2 separate regions of the Homo sapiens genome follow, and region 2 is linked to region 1. Evidence: fine-mapped expression QTL. A gene starts in region 1. The other region holds a variant in brackets. All regions are shown on one strand. Distances are between the middles of the regions. Region 1 holds the start of ERICH1 (glutamate rich 1). Region 2 overlaps ERICH1 (glutamate rich 1).

Region 1 (5,000 bases):
AATTCTATGAATTTCCATCAAGTTTCTGCTTCTACCACTTCAACAAAATTCCTGTAACCAAGATCCCTGATGGCCTCTGCCCTTTACAAATGCAACCGTACATCACTGGTCCTCCTCTTGCTTCATCCACATCATTGGAGACCAGTGGTTCGTTCTTTGACTTGGCTTCAGGACCTTCCTTTTCTCCCTGGCCACCCTTCATGTACCACAGCTTGGGCCCCCTCATCTCCCCACCTCTCAAAGGCCAGAGCCCCTCGGGGCTTATTCCTTGGACCACTTTCTAAAGTTCACGCCTGCTCCCTTCATGACCTCATATGCTTACTCATCTTATGAGCACCTCAAACTTGACCTGTCTAAAACTGCACACTACCACCAAACGAAGATCCCCAGAAGGCTCTCCACCTCCTCAGTGCAACTCCAGCCTTCCAGTTTCCAAACGAAAAATTTACAGCCATTCTACATTTCTCCTTTTCTGTCACAGCCCAGTTTGATCAATCGGAAAATCTCTTTGGCTTTACCTTAAAACATGTCCACAATCCAACTAGCCCCCCCACCCAGAACCTCCAGTGCCACCACTTGGATGTGAGCTGTCAGCATCTCTTATTGCAGCAGATGAAATCTCCACACTTCCTTCCATGCAACTCTAGTCATCACAACGCTAAATGACTTCTTTAAAATGTACATCAGGCCATGCACAGTGGCTCATGCATGTAATCCCACACATTGGGAGGCTGAGGTGGGAGGATTGCTGGAGGCCAGGAGCTGGAGGCTGTAGTGAGCTGTGATGGCACCACTGCACTCCAGCCTGGGCCAGAGTGAGACCCTGTCTACCCCAAAAAGAAAGAAAATGCATCAGATCATTTCACCCCTTTGCTCTACATCGTGTAACAACTTTCCACCCTGCTTCTTGGAACATGCAAAGTTATCAGGCTCCCTGCAGACCCTGCCTGGGTCTGGGTCTCCTTTCCTCCTGATCTGAGCTCCCCTTATCCTGCCCTTGCTTCTGGTCCCCAAACTCAAACAGGGCAGCCGTTCTCCTGGGACATCGTTTCCCTCCTGTGGGCTCTCTTTCCCTGGGCACCCCCAGTCTTGCTCCCTCACCTACCTCAAGCCCGCGCCCATCACTCTACAGTTAGGCCCTACCAGCTTCATTTTCCTCCAAAACACCCATCTCCGTGGGTTCCTCTCCTGAGACAGCCCACATGAGGAACAGCGCCTGGCACACACCTGGGAAATGTTTTGGAAGAAACGAATTCAAGGAGGAGGGTCCTGAGGGGGTGGAGCGGGAGGGCAGAGGCCCTTGGAGCTGGACAGGGAGACAAGAAGGGGTCTGGCAAGCCGGGGTGACGTGGGGGCCGCTGCCCTGACCACTCCCTGTGTCCCACAGGTGCCTGGGGGCCAGGGACACCGCCCTGGCCATGCCCTGTGTCCAGCAGGTGCCTGGGGGTTGGGGTCACCGCCCTGGCCACTCATGTGTCCAGCAGGTGTCTGGGGACCGGCTGGCCATTCCCTGTATCCTGTAGGTGCCTGGGGGCCAGGGACACCGCCCTGGCCATTCCTTGTATCCTGCAGGTGCCTGGGGGCCGGGGACACCGCCCTGCCCACTCCTTGTATCCAGCAGGTGCCTAGGGGCTAGGGGTCACCGCCCTGGCCACTCCCTATATCCTCCAGGTGCCTGGGGGCTGGGGTCACAGCCAGGGCCACTATCCGTGTCTCGCAGGTGCCCGGGGACCGGGGACACCGCCCTAGCCACTCCCTGTATCCTGCAGGTGCCTTGGGGCCGGGGGCACTGCCCTGGCCATTCCCTGTGTCCGGCGGGTGCCTGGGGGCGAAGCGGGGACTGGGGATCCGCAGGTGCACCCGTGGGGTTGGGGGTGGGCGCCTCTCCTCTGGGGCCCTCCGTTCCCCTCTTCTCCACAACGCCCTCCCTAGCGTTCGCCCCCAGAGTTCCGCCACCGCGTAGAGCAGTCGCCGCCAGCGCTCTCACAGCGTCCTCAGGTCCCCAAGAGCCCGCACCGCCGCCCCCGCAGCCCTCCCTCCGCGCATGCTCCACAGCGGGGCTCCCAGAGGCGGGTCTGGAGCCTCGCGACACGCCTACAGACTCGATATCAGCCAATCTACGGCCGTGATGTAGTTGACTGACCGCCCGTGGCGGGGTCCCGTATTCGGATTGGGCATTCCTGCTGTTGTGGGCGGACCCAGGAGGGCGGAACCCGGAAGGCACGGCGCTCAGCTCAGGACCGCGCGCCGTGGTCTGAGGTCCGCGGCAGGGTCCCGCATGGCGGCGCACAGGAAGCACGGTAGGTGGGTGCGGTGCGGAGGCCTGCCCAGACCCCAGACCCGGCTCTCGGCTCAGACCGCGGTGTTGACTCGGGACCCCGACCCCGGCCCCTTTCCAGGCCCCACCCCAAACCCAGACCGACTCCCCACCTCCACCCCAGTCCCTACCCATCCCCCGCTCTTACCCCGGACCGCGGCCCACCCCTCGCCCGTGTTGTTGCTTGCATGGCTGCTGGTCGGGCCGGCCCTGCCAGGCCCCACCTGGTGTCTGGGGTCCTGGGCGGAGGCGAGCCCAGCCAGGGATTCGTGTTCTTAGCAGAGCCCCTGTTGGTGAGTGAGTAGGAGCCGCTCAGCTCTTCAGAGGGGTCCTAGCCCAGGGCTCCGGGGTGGGGCTGCAGCCGGCTCCGGCAGCCTCACCGAAAAGTACAGCAGAACCTCCCAGAGCCACTGTGTCCTCATCTGAGAGACGGAGGTCATGGTGTTTACCTTCAGTGGACCTAAGGTGTGGGGCGCATCCTAGTGCTTATTAAATTCTGTGATAGCATTAGTACCAAAGACAGGAGGAGAATAAATAGAATTGGTTAACCTGGCCGTGCCTTAGAACGGAAGTGTTAGAAAATAAAGCGTGCTCCTGCTTCCTGCAAACCCCAGCTCATTACCCTCACCGTGTAATCATCATCATAATGAAAAGAGTGGCGGTTTTTGACATGAATCTCGTGTTACTTGGATTAATTCAGGCGCTGATGAATTTTTTTCCTTCTCTATGTTTAAAACTGATAATCATGTTTTTCCCTTTGAAATGAAAAGATAATGGCAAACTATAGTTATAAAACAATTGCTTAAAAAGAAAAAATTTCTCAGTGAGGCAGAATGTGGAGAAAAATATGGTCTCAAGTCTTCCTTTTCAGGGACACACTGCACGTGGGCTTCCCCCTCTCCTTCAGGACCAGGGAATTGTCACCTGATCAGCTCACAGGTTAAAAATGACCTAAGAGTTTTTAAGCAGTCACATGCTAGGCTCTAAAATGGACATTCACGTATGTTAATGAGCACCAGAAATACCTTGTTCATGACCCTCTCCTGGAAGCAGGGCTGGCAGGCTGTGAATTCAGTGTCGAGGTTCTTAGGAGCAGACCTGACGGTCAGCTGCCTGCAAAGCTGTGCCTGCCTTCTTGGTGGGGGGCTTCTTGCTACTGCAGGTTTTCTCCTTGTTTTAAACCACAACACACTCTTCTCTTACATTCCTTCAAATGTTTGCACTCTTCTAAGCCTGGAATAAATGCTCTTCTCTATGCAAGAAATTATTATAGCATCTGTAATGTACCTAATCAACTTAAAAAAAAAACCTTTCTCCATTCACCAAATTAAAGTGAATGAAAGCTGTTAATTGTTTTAGTCATTCACTAATCACCTTCCCTCGAAACAGCCTTTTTTTCCTATTGGATATGTGACAGAATGGTCAAGTAAATTTACGTTGTTTAAGGACATTGTGGTTGGAAGGATAGATTAATAAATCCCAAAAGTTTATAAAATGTAGGTGGGAAAGAAAATATTAGTTTTCTGTGTGTCTTCCTCAAGATCACCTGAAGAGCCCATCGGCTGAGTGGCACTTAGGCTCTGAGAGGCACTGAAGGGAGGATTTAGCTGGAATAAAACTTCCCAGCATTTGTGACCTGATGGAGCAGGAAACTGGAGTGTGTGTCTTCTTCAGAGCATTTCCCTTCTGCGTGGCTTGCAACGAGTGAAGTTAGGGGAAGGTGCCGCAGGAGGAGGGGATGGAGCTTGGCGTGTCCCCTTGCAGGGATGTCTGTTTTCCCAAGGTCCAGCTCAGGGTCATGGGGTGGTTGCAGGTGGGGGTTGGGCGCTGTTGTTGATGGTGGGAGAGGAGGCAGGTGCCACAAGACGCAGGTGTGCCTCTCCTGGAGCAGACCCCACACAGAACTGACTTGGCGTCGTTTATTCACCGCCGGATGTTGGCGGAGCATCTGCTGAGTGTGGCAGAGCCCCTCAGGCCCTGGCTGCGGCAGCGAATCAGGCACGGTATCCCTCCCTCCCCGAGCTAAGTGAAGCTCTGCTGTGCTTTGAGGCTGTGCTTGGGTTTAGGGCAGTGCTTGCTGACAGAGGACACATCCAGGGGCCCATACTCTCCCCTGCCTGGCCCTGGCACAGACCAAGAAACATGAGGTGGAAAGGTTGGCAGTCAGGCTAAACAGTGATTCTAAGCATTTTTTTTTTCCTGGAAGTAGATTGTTTCTGCTAGGCAATATAATCTGCTAATGTGACAGTTTCCCTGTAACAATGTGTAGCAAAACTCTGCAGGATTAATGAGAAGAATGTATTGCCTTTGAAGCAGCACCACTTGAGTAAAAATTCCTCAAATGTGCTCTATGTTATGCTAGTGTAAGTATAGCACCGGAGGATATTTCTTGGGCCTACTTTGCAAGCCTCTGAGAGGTGCTGTGCAGCTCCGACCATGAACTGCTCTCCTAATTGAAGAGGGTCCCAGGAAGGGGAAGGGCACTATGGCCTCCATTCTACCCAGGGAGATTGGGTGAATATCTGGCATGTAATTAAGTGCTAGCTCAGGTCGGGCTGTTTCTGGCATATAGGGTAGCCAGCGGTCAGGGGAGCCTGGAGTGGGGTTGCAGTGGACTGGGGAGGCCCCCAGTGTCACAGATCTCCCAGGGACTGCGTGCTCCTCGAGGAAGGGGCCTGCTGCG
Region 2 (5,524 bases), 46 kb after region 1:
GGGATGTCCTTGGAGCCTCAGACCCTGCTCGGGAAACCTGGGTGCCGTCTCGGCTGGAAGCCTCGGAGGCCTGCGCCGGTTCCGCGCGCTCCGTTCTCGGGGCGGGACCGCTGCATCCGGGGCCTCTCCGCGCCTCGCCCCCGATTCCTCCGTGGCTGCCCCGTATTCCACCTACTACGGCCTCGGCTAGGGCCCCGCGGGCCTGGCGCGCTCCCCCGGGCGCGGCGGGCACTGGCCGCAGTTCTGCCGACTTCAGCCCTGGGTCCGGTCAGCGCTGCGTCCTGCCTCGCCTGGGCCGCCCGGGCGCTCCCCGCGCGCTGCCTTCCTCCTGCTGCGCTCCACAGGGACCCGCCTCCCTCCAGTCCTGCTCCCTGCGCCGCTGCCTCCCTCCACGGGTTCCCGCCTCTCCCCTGCGCCCCCTCAGCGCGTGGTGTTAGCGGGCCCCTTCTCTGCCCATGGGGTGACAGTCTGGACCCACACGCTTAGCGTTTGTTGTGCCAGACCGTCTGGGCTTATTGCAAAGCTTGTGCAAACGTGAGCGTTGCCGGCTTTTTATTCCCCGAGGAGCCTTATCCTGGCGCCTGGTGGAATTAAGTCTTAAGTCAATATTTGGTGAACTGCGTTGAATGATTATGTATAAAAACAGCCCGTAAGGCAAGTGTTAGTGTTTCCCCGGTTCCTAATCACAAGCGGTGTGAGGCATTGACTCAGATTCTGTGCTCAGATCCAGCTACAGAGTCATGAACATAAGTCATTTCTGTGGAGAGCTGTTGTGATGGTGATTCTAGCAGCAAGCACCAGTTGAAATAGTTACTAACTTCACGGCTTCTGGAAGCATGCAGTAAATGCACAGTTATAATGTGGATTCCGTTTGAGTTAAACATCCGTACATGCTCTGTTTTGACAGAATCGTGGCTCTCTCTGCCTTTTGCCTTTCCTGAAGGAGTCCTAGCGTGACTTCTCTTAGCCTTTCCAGAGTGGCTCGTGGGTGGGTGATGGGGCTGCCCCCCGCTCCGCATTCCTCGCATCTCACCCTCTCAAGGGCCTGACAGAGTCAGAGCTAGCAGTGTTTCATTCTTGTCACGCTGATTTATTGATATGAGAGTTCACACATTCAGCTGTGTCCAAGCTCGCCTGGTCCTAGAGGAGGGGAGGGGCGCCCTGCTGTGCGCGCTCTCTCTCTCTCTCTCTGAGTGTCCTGCGAGAGACCTGTTGCTCAGCTGCCTTTACCTACCCACAAGTGGGATGAGAGCCTGGACTTGGAGGTCTCATGCATCCTGGGCCATCAGAAAAGGCTGTGATGGTTTCTAAAAGGTTGGCACTGTGTATGGTCATGTTTTTTGTGTCTTTGGCATCTCCTGGATTCTTCCCGGACTTAATGAAGCCAATGAGAATAGCATTGGCTGTTTGATTAAAGACTGTGGGTGCCGGGTGTCAGGCATGAACTTTGAAATAACTCACCTGTGGGATCTACATGGTTTTTGTTTTTGTTTTTTTTTTTTTTTTTAGCTTGCCTAGGAAGAAACAAAAGAAAAGAATGCATTTGTTCTTATTGCCATTTATTTTCGTAAAACATAGTTACTCGATTTCCAAGCTATTGTTGGCACATATTCCTAAGCAATTTGGATTAGAGAAATGTCTAGATAGTGGTGTATCCTTACACTGCTTTTAGCTTGAAGTGAATGTGTTACAAAAATAGAGTGATTTATGAATATTTTACTAGATATTAATATTTGTTTAATTGAAGTTAAAGAGTATCTGAGAAAAAAAGGTAGAAGATGATGATGATGATGATGATTTTGAGATGGAGTCTCGCTCTGTCATCCCAGCTGGAGTGCAGTGGCGCAATCTCACTGCACCCTCTGCCTTCTGGGTTTAAGCCGCCCTCCTGCCTCAGCCTCCCGAGAAGCTGGGACCACAGGTGCGCACCACTACACCAAGCTATTTTTTTTTTTTTTTTTTTGGTATTTTTTAGTAGAGACGGGGTTTCACCATGTTGGCCAGGCTGGTCTCGAACCGCTGGGGTCAAGTGATCTGCTTGCCTTGGCCTCCCAAATTGCTGGAATTACAGGCCTGAGCCACTGTGCCCAGTCAGTTATTGAAAAAATAATACATGAATTGCCCAAAGCTGAAGAGACTCTCAGGAATAGAAAGATGGCTGAAAGTCCCTACCGTAATAATGAAGAAAGACTCTTGAAATGCCAGACAAGGCCTCGGAAAAAGATGCTAAAATATGCCCCTATTGCAGGAAGTCAGGGACCCCGAACGGAGGGACCGGCTGAAGGCGTGACAGAGAACATAAATTGTGAAGATTTCATGGACATTTGTTAGTTCTCCAAATTAATACTTTTATAATTTCTTATGCCTGTCTTTATTGCAATCTCTGAACATAAATTGTGAAGATTTCATGGACATGTATCACTTCCCCAATCAATACTCTTATAATTTCCTATGCATGTCTTTAATCTCTTAATCCCATCATCTTCTTAAACTGAGAATGTATGTTGCCTCAGGACCCTGTGATGGTTGCGTTAACTGCACA[A/G]ATTGTTCGTAAAGCATGTGTGTTTGAACAATATGAAATCTGGGCATCTTGACAAAAGAACAGGATAACAGCGATGTTCAGGGAACAAGGGAGATTACCATTAGGTCTGACTGCCTGGGAGCCGGGCAGGACACAGCCGTATTTCTCTTATTGCCGAAAACGGGTAAGAGAAATATCGCTGAATTATTTCCCCAGTAAGGAATATTAATAATTAAGAGCCCTGGAAAAAGAATGCATTCCTGGGGGGACGGAGGGGGATCTCTAAAATGGCCGCTCTGGGGGTGTCTGCCTTATGCAGTTGTAGATAGGGATGAAACACGCCCTGGTCTCCTGCAGCGCCCCCAGGCTTGCTAGGATTAGGAGATTCCAGCCTGGTGAATTCTAGTCAGACCGGTTCTCTGCTCTTGAACCCTGTTATCAATGACAATGTATGCACAGTGGAACATGAAACTTCATCAGCAATTCTAGTTTCGCCCTGGCCTTGTGACCTTGCCCTGCTCATTTGCCTTGTGATATTTTATTGCCCGTGAAGCATGTGATCTCTGTGACCCATACCGTATTTGTACACTCCCTCCCCTTTGAAAATCGCTAATAAAAACTTGCTGGTTTTGGGGCTCAGGGGGCATCACGGAACCTGCTGACATGTGATGTCTCCCCCGGACACCCAGCTTTAAAATTTCTCTCTTTTGTACTCTTTCCCTTTATTTCTCAGACTGGCCGATGCTTAGGGAAAATAGAAAAGAACCTATGTTGAAATATTGGGGGCTGGTTCCCCCGATATCCCCAGGAGGTAAACAGATGTCTTGGCAGAAATTGGAATTAAGCTGCAGGCTTCAGAGCCCCCCTCTTCTCTGTGGTACCACTGAAAACCCGTGAAGTAAATGAGCGTTTTAGTTAAGTTTTCAACTCAAAAAGTCACGAGTCCAAGTCAATGAAGAATATTTACAAAACACTTCACAGTTTCAGAGCCTCACACAAATATAACCTCATTTTAACATTTTTTTGTGGATACATTTACTCTATTTAAATTTACTATTTAAATTTTTTATTTACTGTGGCTTTATATTTATTGAATAATTCAATGGCTTTTCTTCATTTGTACTGTTTTAATTACTTTCTTAACTTTCCTATTCTTTAAATTAAAAAAATTGTCCTGCATCTAATTTTAACTTAATGACTTGCCTCATGGTTTTGACAGTTTTATTTAAGGGAATTTAGCACTTTATTGCCCTATTTTAAGACTTTTATTGCTTATAAAATTTTTATCATTTTGTTGGCCATTTTATGGAAAGTTATAGAAAATGACTAAATGTGAATTGTTTTTAAAAGTATCTATCAAGCTGTTTTATGGTGAGACACTAACTACTTTTCCACTAAGTCAGTTTTTAAGACTCAAACATGTAAACATGAAACATAAGAACAATTTCTTGAGTATGTATAATTCAAGCCTATTCAAAACTAATCTAGAAAATTTGGACATTAATTCGGTATCAAAGTCTGTCTCAGGGAAGAATTCAGGAACTAATCTTGTTGAAGATTATGAAATAATGTGTATTTGGCCACATGTTTAGTAAGTATTCAGAAGGCAGACGTTTAGCTTAGCGGCAGATCACATCCAGAGGAAAACCAACCTTTCCTTTGGTGGTTCCTGATCACCGCCCGGCATCCAAATTCAAAATCACAAAACTTTAGCATCTAGATTGTTGTGTTTTAGCCCAACTCAGTTTTTTATAACGTTGAGGTCCCGTATGGTCTTTCAGTACCATTTGGAATCAAAAGCTAAATGATGTCCTGCAGCTGGCATGGAGCCGGGGGAGGAGGCCACATTTCCAGCTCCAAGGCTGTGCCTCCCTTGTTGTCTTTGGAAATTACTGCTCCAGATTCAGATCTATTAAGAGAGAGAGAGCGAGAATCCATTTTTTTAAAGTGACAGGGAACTCTTCAAGTCCTCTTTATTCCGAGGGTGTTCAGGCACCTGCTGACCCTCACGGCTGACCCTGGAGGGGTGCTCCCCGTCTCACAGGCAGTCCTTGGTGGCTGAGGCCCTGGGGAGAAGTCTCTGTCCCAGGAGCCATGTGAGCTACCTTTATTCCCTGAAGCCCTGTCTGCTGGGTCTGAATTTTATCCTCAAAGGCCAAACCGAACATGAATTCCTCTCTCTGTGGCAGGTCTTCTACATGGCAAGCAACTGCCATGGTCCACGCCAGCCACAGCCACCGCTTGTCCATCCCTGAATCTCCAGGGGTCTCAAACCACCCTGCCCGGGGCAGGACATGCTTCTCAGCAGGCCGGAGTGTCCGCGTCTGTGAGACTCCAGTGTTTCCTTGGCTAAATGAGTACAATCTATGGTGTTATTACAAAATATTTTCCTGGATTTTAGGCAAACAACACACTCAGCAACTGGAAGCTTTTCATGTTACTACATTTTAAAGATCTGCTTTCACAGGTAGGGTTTAGATCAACTTGATAAGAAGTTTACTACTTTTTATTTAGCACCTAGAGGACATTGGTAGCTTGAGGGTAATTATCAGATGCAATTTGTAGCCTAGCTTTGAATCTAGAATAAAGTTCATATTCCCTTTAAAATGCCTAGCCTACTTTCACGTAAGAAGGTGCAGCTGTGAGAATTAGAATCTGAAGACTGGTTATTTTTGTTATCTAACTATTTCTACTCCAGCAGTTCATCAGAATGTAGGTGTCAAATAGTAGCAGAGAGAGTTTTGACACATTGTGACTCCTTTTAAAGTTAGTGTGTCTGAAAGGTGTGTTTTGGGGATGGCAGCTTTTCAAAGCGCACTGCTCCAATTATAAATAGCCCGGCCTCTGGTTCCCTCACATCGCTTTCAGCTGCTGGGTGTGAAGGGCGTAGACCTCCCACATGCCCTGGAGATGTGGACATTCTGGAGTCTCTGGAGTGGTTCTGAAAAGTCATATGGAGGGTGCAGCATGAGTGGAGAAGTCACAGTGCAACAGGGTAAAAGG

The links. PIP is the estimated chance that this variant, and not a neighbour inherited with it, causes the effect.
Region 2: its variant is fine-mapped to the expression of ERICH1 in cerebellum (GTEx, PIP above 0.99).

Annotation. Positions count from the first base shown.
Region 1 is chr8:728,440-733,439 of GRCh38, reverse strand. It overlaps ERICH1 (glutamate rich 1), which reads left to right and starts at 2,216. Exons shown (of 6, transcript NM_207332.3): 1 at 2,216-2,300. The coding sequence starts at 2,279. RefSeq lists enhancers at 4,229-4,733, 4,794-5,000.
Region 2 is chr8:682,432-687,955 of GRCh38, reverse strand. The region is part of intron 3 of ERICH1 (glutamate rich 1); the gene reads left to right. Among named protein-coding and RNA genes, the nearest start is that of ERICH1, 46 kb to the left of the region's middle. RefSeq lists a silencer at 1-43 and an enhancer at 1-277. The variant A/G (reference allele first, on the strand shown) is at 2,543.